2 linked regions of the Homo sapiens genome follow. The protein of the gene in region 2 interacts with the protein of the main gene of each other region in a pairwise test. Each region holds a gene or a part of one and is shown on either strand. Other genes may lie near its edges.

Region 1 (4,372 bases), on a different chromosome or scaffold from region 2:
ACCCGGGAGGCGGAGCTTGCAGTGAGCCGATATCACGCCACTGCACTCCAGCCTGGGCGACAGAGTAAAAAAAAAAAAAAGAAAGGAAGGAAATTCTGAAACATGGGACAACATGGGTGAAGTCTGAAGACATCATGCTAAGTGGAATAAGCCAGTTACAAAAGGACAAATACCACATGATTCCACTTATGTGAGGTCCCCAGAGTGTTCACATTCAGAGACAGAAAGTAACATAGTGATTGCCAGGGGCTTGGGAGACAGGGTGGGGTGGGTGGTTAGTGTTTGATGGGGTTAGAATTTCAGTTTGGGAAGATGAGAAAGTTTGGAGATGGATGGTGGCGATGGTTGAACAACAACATGAATGTGCTTAATGCCATCGAACTGTACGCTTAAAAATGGTTACAAAAGGCCGGGCACGGTGGCTCGTGCCTGGAATCCCAGCACTTTGGGAGGCCGAGGCGGGCAGAACACGAGGTCAGGAGATTGAGACCATCCTGGCTAACACTGTGAAACCGCGTCTCTACTAAAAATACAAAAAATTAGCCAGGCATGGTGGCGGGGGCCTGTAGTCCCAGCTACTCGCGAGGCTGAGGCAGGAGGATGGCGTGAACCCGGGAGGCGGAGCTTGCAGTGAGCCGAGATCGCACCACTGCACTCCAGCCTGGGCGGCAGAGCAAGACTCCGTCTCAAAAAATAAATAAATAAATAAAAAATGGTTACAAAGGCAAATTTCATGTATATTTTACCACCATTTTGAAAATTAATTTTACATATTTGTCTTTTTTTTTTTTTTTTTGTGAGACAAAGTCTCACTTTGTCTCCCAGGCTGGAGTGCAGTGGCGCAATCTAATCTCCGCTCACTGCAACCTCCACCTCCCAGGTTTAAGCAATTCTCCTGCCTCAGCCTCCCGAGTCGCTGGGATTACAGGCGCCTGCCACCACACCCAGCTAATTTTTGTATTTTTAGTAGAGACAAGGTTTGGGCATGTTGGCCAGGCTGGTCTCGAACTCCTGGCCTCAAGCAAGCCACCTGCCTCAGCCTCCCAAAGTGCTGGGATTACAGGTGTGAGCCACCGTGCCCGGCCATTTGTCATTTTTTTTATAGGGCTGCTAGAACACTGTAAATTGCATATATGGCTCACATTAGGTTTCCACTGGGCCACGCTAGTAAAGAACACATCTTCAACCATAGTATGATTAAGCCTGTGGAATCCTCTAGAGGCTGATGAGATTAACAAGAAGGAGAGGGTCCATGAAAGGAGAACCCCAGGGTCAATAATTTGGCACCTTTCAGAGGCAAGAGACAAGACCTGCAGGTGTGCAGTCAGTAGAGAGAGGGCCTCTATAGGATGTAGAGTTAGTTCACAAAATTGTAATTGGGATCCCATCCTACAACGTTCCTTACACTTGGGTTGCAATTATTTATGTCACTGCAAAGGACTATTCCCTACAATAAATGATACATTGGCACATTTGGGTGTATTCATCAGTTTCTTGGGAGTTTAGTTAGTGAGAGTCCCTTGAGCCCATGATCTGAGGGTGCCCTACCAATATGGAGATTCTAGACCTGTCTTGGAAAACCAGACCCTACCCAGAGGGACCCAGGCAGGTCCTCACTGGGGCCACCATCCTCTACTCCCTGTCTGGATCACTGGACAGTAAGCTCCCTGAGGGCAGGGCCTCAGGGACTTAGTTGCTGTTGTGCTTAGCACAGTGCCTGGAACATAGGATAAGCTCAGAAAGTGTTTTCAAAAATTTTAAGCAACACCACCTCCCCATAATGGAGCCAGGCAATTTCCCAATGCGGGCCATGCAACTGCACCCCTGCCACAGCCTCCCTCCACCCCTGGGAGACCAGAAAACTGTCCAAAGTCCAGGCCACTCCAAAGTTCATGGGGTCAACGGGTGGATGGCTTGGGAAGTAATTGCACCCTGACCCGCGCCCCAAGCCTGGACTGCTCTGTCCCAGGTCCCTGACATTTTCCCCCATCCTCCCTGAGAAGGCCTCTTTGCTTCCCTTCAGAGTGGAACTGGGGGTTGGGGTGAGGGGTCACTCACTCAAGGGTGCCAGGCCCCCGGCAGAGATGCAGGGGGCGTTTCCCATCCTGGTCAGCGATGTTGGGGTCGGCTCCTGCCACCAGCAGCACATGAACACAGGCAGTGTGGCCTGCAGCACAGGCCTCGTGCAGGGCGGTGCGGCCCCCAGGGGCACTGTCTGGCCTTGCTCGCCGCCTCAGCAGCAGCCGCAGGACTTCCGTGTGGCCACGGCTGGCTGCCACATGCAGTGGGGTGGTCAGCTCCTCTTCGTATGTCAGAGACCAGAGTCCTAGGGAGGGGAGACGTGGGCCTCAGATCCCCAGGGAAGGCAGAGACCTTCCAGCCAATGGGGTGAGGTGGGCAGAGGCAGGAAGAGGGAGCCCAGAGCTCCATCTGCAGCCTCCCCTCTCTCCCACTGAGAGCCCCCAGTGCCCCGGCCCGTACTCAGAGCACGGATGTTGAAGCGGAAATCCCTCCATCGCTCTGGGTCGCTGGTATCAAAGACGGAATCAGGAGCCAGGCCAGTACTGGAGTCCGCGAGGATGCGGGAGACACAGCCCACGTCCCCAGCCAGCACTGCCTGCCAGAAGGCAAGGGCAGGTCCTGAGGCTGTGCGGGTGACGATGGGTCCCGGGCCAGACTTGAGGTGCTCCTCAGACCCTCTGCTGGGCTTCTCCACCAGCCTGGCACAGAGGGGGTGTCTGTCATCGAGGGGCTCTCCCTGCCCCTTGCACTCTTCTGGAGACCAACTCATGAGCATGTGGGCAGGGAAAGGGGAGTGGGGAGGAGGAGAGGTATATGCCAAAGGCAGAGAGAGAGAGAGAGAGCAGGAGGGAAATACAGACAGACAGAAGGCCCCTGTGTCCCACGCTCCGAGGCTGACCTGGCCACGCATCCAGCAGGAGCTATTCTGGGCTCCACATGACTGTGTTCTTGGGCCAAGGTGTAGGCTATTGGGCAAGCTTTGAGGTCGGGGAGAAACAGCCGGGGGCTTCTCCTTTCACTCAAGCCCTTAGGACCTCTGTGGCCGAGGCAGTCAGCCCAGCCCCCTGGTTCTCAGCAACCCCCAGATGCCCCTCACCCCTCTGGTGGCTGCTCCAGCGAGGCTCTGCGGCCCGGCTCTCCAGCAGCAGGTCGGCTGTGCTGTGCGGGGGGAACAGCTCCTGCAACCTTGCCAGGTCCCCGGTGTAGAGGGCATTCTGCAGGGCCATGTCTTGGCAGAGCAGTGGTGATGGCCGAGGGGGCTCCCAGGCTGGGCGGGAGTGGGGCCTCCAGATCCGGCAGGCCGGGGCGGAGGGAAGGCACCCCAGATGGTGTCCCCAGTGGGGAGAGGAGTTCTTTCCCCAGGGCATGGCTTGTTCTGGGAGAGCCAAAGCAGCACGACTCCCAGCGATGTTGCTGGTGGACTGGGCAGGTGGGTGCTGGGCCCGAGCTGGGTGGGGCCCAGCATGGGAGGCGCAGGGGAGCACAACATCAGGCAAAGCCATAAATAGCCCTGACTGGCCCAGCTGTCAGTCAGGCCGGGTGGGGGAATTAGGGAGGGGCAGGAGAACAAGTGAGGCCTGAGCCCGCCAACCCTGAGCTTCACCCCAGGGCTGTATGACCTCAGGGTGGAAAGGGACCACCCGGACCATGCTGCCCAGTCCGTCATCTCGGCATTAAAGGGAAGTGAATTTCCCAAGATCACGCAGAGAGCTTGTTGCAGAGCCAGGACTGGAACCCAGGGCCTTGAGCTCTTTCTTGTTCACCAAATCGGCCTCCAGCTGCCTGGGCTCTGATCCCACTGGGAAGGCCTGTGGGTGCCAGATAATATTTCCTGCCCTTCCAAATGTCATCTGTTAGCCCTGCACCTTCCCACTCCCAAACCAAGGGAGGAGTTCACAGTAGTGACACAGATTGCCCTCGCTGTGTGAGGCACCCCTCAGGGGGCTCCCTTAGACAGACGTGTGCCTGAGTAACAGAGCGTAACCCACAGGCAAGCCACAGAAACTCCCCATGCTCGTCCTTGATGCCAACCCCCCCATCTCCCTGGATGACCTTGGGTGGCATCTCTCCCCTGCTGTGGTTACATGGGGTCTCTTCACTAGAGAGTGAGAAAGGAGAAATGTCTCTGTGTACTCAGGCACTGACTTTTGTTTGGGGGCCGGGTGGATCAAAAGGAAAAAAAGAGAGAAAGAAGATGAGAAACCAGGCCCTCGGGCTCAGCTCTGACCCACCACTGCCCACCATGGGCTTGAGGTGCTCCAGCCCCATTGGTCTTGCCCCTTTGGCTCACGCTGGCTTAAAAAAATTTTTTTAAATCAATTGCTTTTTAAAAAGTTTCATTTTTAATTGA
Region 2 (3,690 bases):
CCCGACGGCACCTCTCCGCCCGACGGCACCTCTCCGCCATGGCTCTCCTGAGACACTGCTGCCCTCGGATCCCTTCCCGGCCCTTCTCGGGTTCTTGCTGCCAACAGTGCCAAACCGAAACCCACAGGCGGGCCGGAGTTCCCTCACCAGGCCCCCTGAGGGCTGCTGCCCTGGCAGCCCCTCCCCAGAACTTCTGTCCAGGCCAGGCCGTTCTCTCACCCGGCGCCGCCCCGTGCTCACGCTGACCCCTCCATTCCTCCCGACGCCTCTGGGCTCAGGCTCTGAATGTGGGCGCTCAGAACTATCTTCTGGGTCTTTTCACCTGCGTGTCTCATTCCCCACCTGGCATGCAGCTCCGAGCCTGTGTGTGGCCCTCTCTGGCCAACCCGCCTCCCCAGCATGGGGCCACGTCTCAAGTCTGCCCACCCTCAGTTCCCCGTCAACTCAGAGACCAGACCCCGGCCGCGCCCACTGCCCAGACCCTGGGAAAGCGGAGCCAGGCCACGTGGCGCTCAGAGCTGGGGGGTGGCTGCTGCGTGTCTGGCACCCAGAGACCCAAGAGAAGAAGGAAGCAGAGCTTCCGGCTCTTTCTCCTGCAGCAAGACTTTTATTTAGGTGTCGGGACTGCTCTGCCACAGCTGCCCACCTGGGGCGCGTCCCTGCTGGCCGCCCCGTCACGGCCCGAACCAGCTGGGGATGCCGCCCCGCCGCGGGTCGCTGCTCTGCCACAGCTGCCCACCTGGGGCGCGTCCCTGCTGGCCACCCCGTCACAGCCCGAACCAGCTGGGGACGCCGCCCCGCCGCGGGTCGCTGCTCTGCCTCTGCTGCCTCTCCTCCTCGAGCATGCTGTAGAGGTCGTCGGCAGCGCTGCCTTCAGGGCTCTCGTCTTTCTCGGGAAACAGATCTGGGAACGTGAAGGTCTGTCCATGGGCCTAAGGGGGAGAACAAAGGCTCCAGCCAGAGCTGCAAAGACTCCTCAGCAGAGGGGTCTGTGGGGGAGCCTCATGCTTTCTGGCAGCCCCTTTCTGCCGGCGCCGGATTCAACTGCTCAGAGGTACCTCCCTGGGCCTCCTGGGGCAGCGTCCCTGCCTGGAATGTAAGCACCCCCACGGCCACCGGCCCCCGGCTGTCACGCTGCAGCAGAGGCCACAGCTCCAGGACAGGGCCGCTTTCCCCACCATTGTCTCTTTAGGGCCTGGTGTCTGCCCCCGCCCTGGGTGCACCCATTTACTAGCACGGGGCCACCTGGTTGGTGGGGGGCAGAAACAAGGCATGGAAAAACATGACACAAATCACGTCTGGTACCATGCTGAACCTGTCCATCCAAAATGCCTCAGGCTCTACTCACATTAAAGCTCCCCCTCCTCCCAGCCCAGAGCCTGGCAATTAAAGTGAACATCACGTACGAAGAAACATGCACGTGCGGCAGTTGATAAATCAGGACCGGCTCTGCCAATTAACTGGTCTTACATCTTCTGCTGAGAGTTCAGAATATGTCCGTGTCAGCCAAGCCCCAGCCCAGGCCACAGCATGTGGCTCGGGTTCACGAGAAGGAGGGGATACTGCTCCTTGGGGACCTAAGCAAATACAAGAAGCCATCTTAACTTGCTAATGATTACTAAGTGCTCCAAAGCTAAGAGGCAGAAAGAGCAGACCAGAGGAGAGGGAAGAGAAGAGGGAGGAGGAGTGAGGATGGCACCCGAATCTGGAACCCTTTAGTGAGTAAAATCAGTCAGGTACACTTGGCTCTTGCAGACCCTTTGTGTGTAAATAAATCTGGATGTGGGCAGGCAGCCAAGTATGATCTGAAACAGGCCCAGATCCCACCCTGCGAGGGAGGTGTATGCACCCTGATCCCTGGCGCAGAGCGCAGGGGCTGGCGGGGAGAGTGGCACTGCGTGCGCCGTAGCCGGCCTGCAGGAGGATTGCCTTACACAGCTCTGAACTTTGCGTCTTTTAAAATACCAAGGGGCAGTCGTTTACACGTGAGGCTGACTGCCCAGAATGGGAGATTCACCTTGACTATATGGAGGTGATTCTGCTAGTTTTCCGAGGCAAGGGGAACCCAAAATGACAGTTTAAAGCACAAACATGGCCATTTGTCACAGCTTCGGGAAGAAATGGGGAAAGGTGCTGAGAGAAAATCCGTTTCTTACAGGAGACAAACACCGTTTGGGGATGCCAAGCATGGTTTCCCAGGGGCTTCCCCTTTCTAGAAGAGTTCACCTTGTACCTAAAAAAAAAAAGCCCTTGATCCTTCCAAAAAGGAGAGAGACAGCTGATCGGGGTAAAGAACAGGAATGGAGAAAAATGTCCCAATGACAAGTAAACAAGGCAGCCCTGCCTTCAGGAATCCCAGGGCGCCCTGGGGGCTGCCGCCTGCCTGGACCTGGAGGCCGGAGCCCCGAGCACGGAGCTCGGCCCAGCTGGCGGCAGCGGTTTGTTCTGGAGTTGCCTCTCATGTCGTGCGCCCTTCATTCCTGCGCGCCCTTCATTCCCGCGCTGCTCAGCATCCACACAAGCCTCGGGGCAGCGGGCAGTCAATGGTCTTTTTGTTGTGTGGGTCACTGAGGCGCTGCTTTCAGCTCCCAGGACTTTGGGCCAAGGAGATGCTTATCAGGTTGTCGGAGAAAGAAATGTGGGACTCCCGCCACGTGGGACAGGGCCTTTCCACAGCGGCCAACTCCAAATAACGTGGATAATTTTACCTTTCCAATGCTCCCTCCCTGGGCTTTGCAATTAGCAGTGATTCTAAGCCCTGGCGCAGGGCCCAGGGGGACACGCTGAGCAAGGTCTCAGCAGACACGAGACAGGAAAGGGCCTTGAGAGTCCCCTCTGCGGGCAGACAGGGACCAACGGCCACGGCCCATTTCTAGGCTGTGCAAAGATGTGCTGGAGTTCAGGAAGGGGGGTGAGGACCCGTTACAAATTTTCATTCTGGAACAGGAGGATCCATGCCCAACTGGGACCCTTCAGGCTCCCAGTTGCCCTGCCCTGTCTCTGGCTGCCTGGACTTCACAGAGGGAGAACAACACGCGGGCAGCAGCTGCAGACACCGGATCCCGGAGCTGCTGGGTTCAGTTTTCATGGGAGGTGGGGCCCAGAGGAAGAACGCAAGGGCTCGGATGACTTGAATGCCACTTGTAACCGTAGCTGCCTCTGAAGTGCCCGTGGCGGTGCCGGCACACGGGATGTCCACCCACATGCCATGACAAAGACAGATGGGCCCGACTGACACTGAGCACACAGAGGCCTTTATGAGGCCAACGGCTGCTCTCCCCACCTGGATTGGCTGATTTCATGCACAGCAAATATCAGGCCAAATTATTCCGGGGGCCCCTGTTTAGAACAACAAATGTGACTGTTTTTCAGAAAAGCTGCCATGCTAACTTGGCCTTTTTCACAAACTGCCTCCTTAGCCCCACAACAGGCCGGCTGGCCCAGGAGGCGGTTTCCACCATCGTGTGACTGCCATCTAGTGGCAGGGCCCGCCGGCTCGGCCTCCAGGGACCATTTACACCGGAAGACAACCCCATCCCCACCCAGTAAGGCCAGCCCCAGGGGCAGAGTGGGGAGGCCCAGGAGGCGGCCGGGGCAGGCTGTGGACATCTTGGCCCAGAGAGAAAGTGCCTCTGGGTTTGCCTGGGACTCAAAATGAAGAGCCCAAAGAAAGGCTTTGAAACTGTGGGT

What was found.
Region 1: the proteins of MRPL23 (region 2) and ASB10 interact in a two-hybrid assay, tested with the Homo sapiens proteins (one large-scale study listed by BioGRID and IntAct).

The regions. Positions count from the first base shown.
Region 1 is NC_000007.14:151,184,334-151,188,705, forward strand, and holds the start of ASB10 (ankyrin repeat and SOCS box protein 10), read right to left. Parts: upstream 2,918-4,372; 5' UTR 2,798-2,917; coding exon 2,482-2,797; intron 2,327-2,481; coding exon 2,059-2,326; intron 1-2,058. UniProt on the Homo sapiens protein: May be a substrate-recognition component of a SCF-like ECS (Elongin-Cullin-SOCS-box protein) E3 ubiquitin-protein ligase complex which mediates the ubiquitination and subsequent proteasomal degradation of target proteins.
Region 2 is NC_000011.10:1,953,498-1,957,187, reverse strand, and holds the end of MRPL23 (large ribosomal subunit protein uL23m), read right to left. Parts: intron 1,578-3,690; coding exon of another isoform or gene 1,503-1,577; exon of another isoform or gene 1,407-1,502; intron 933-1,406; coding exon 768-932; 3' UTR 588-767; downstream 1-587.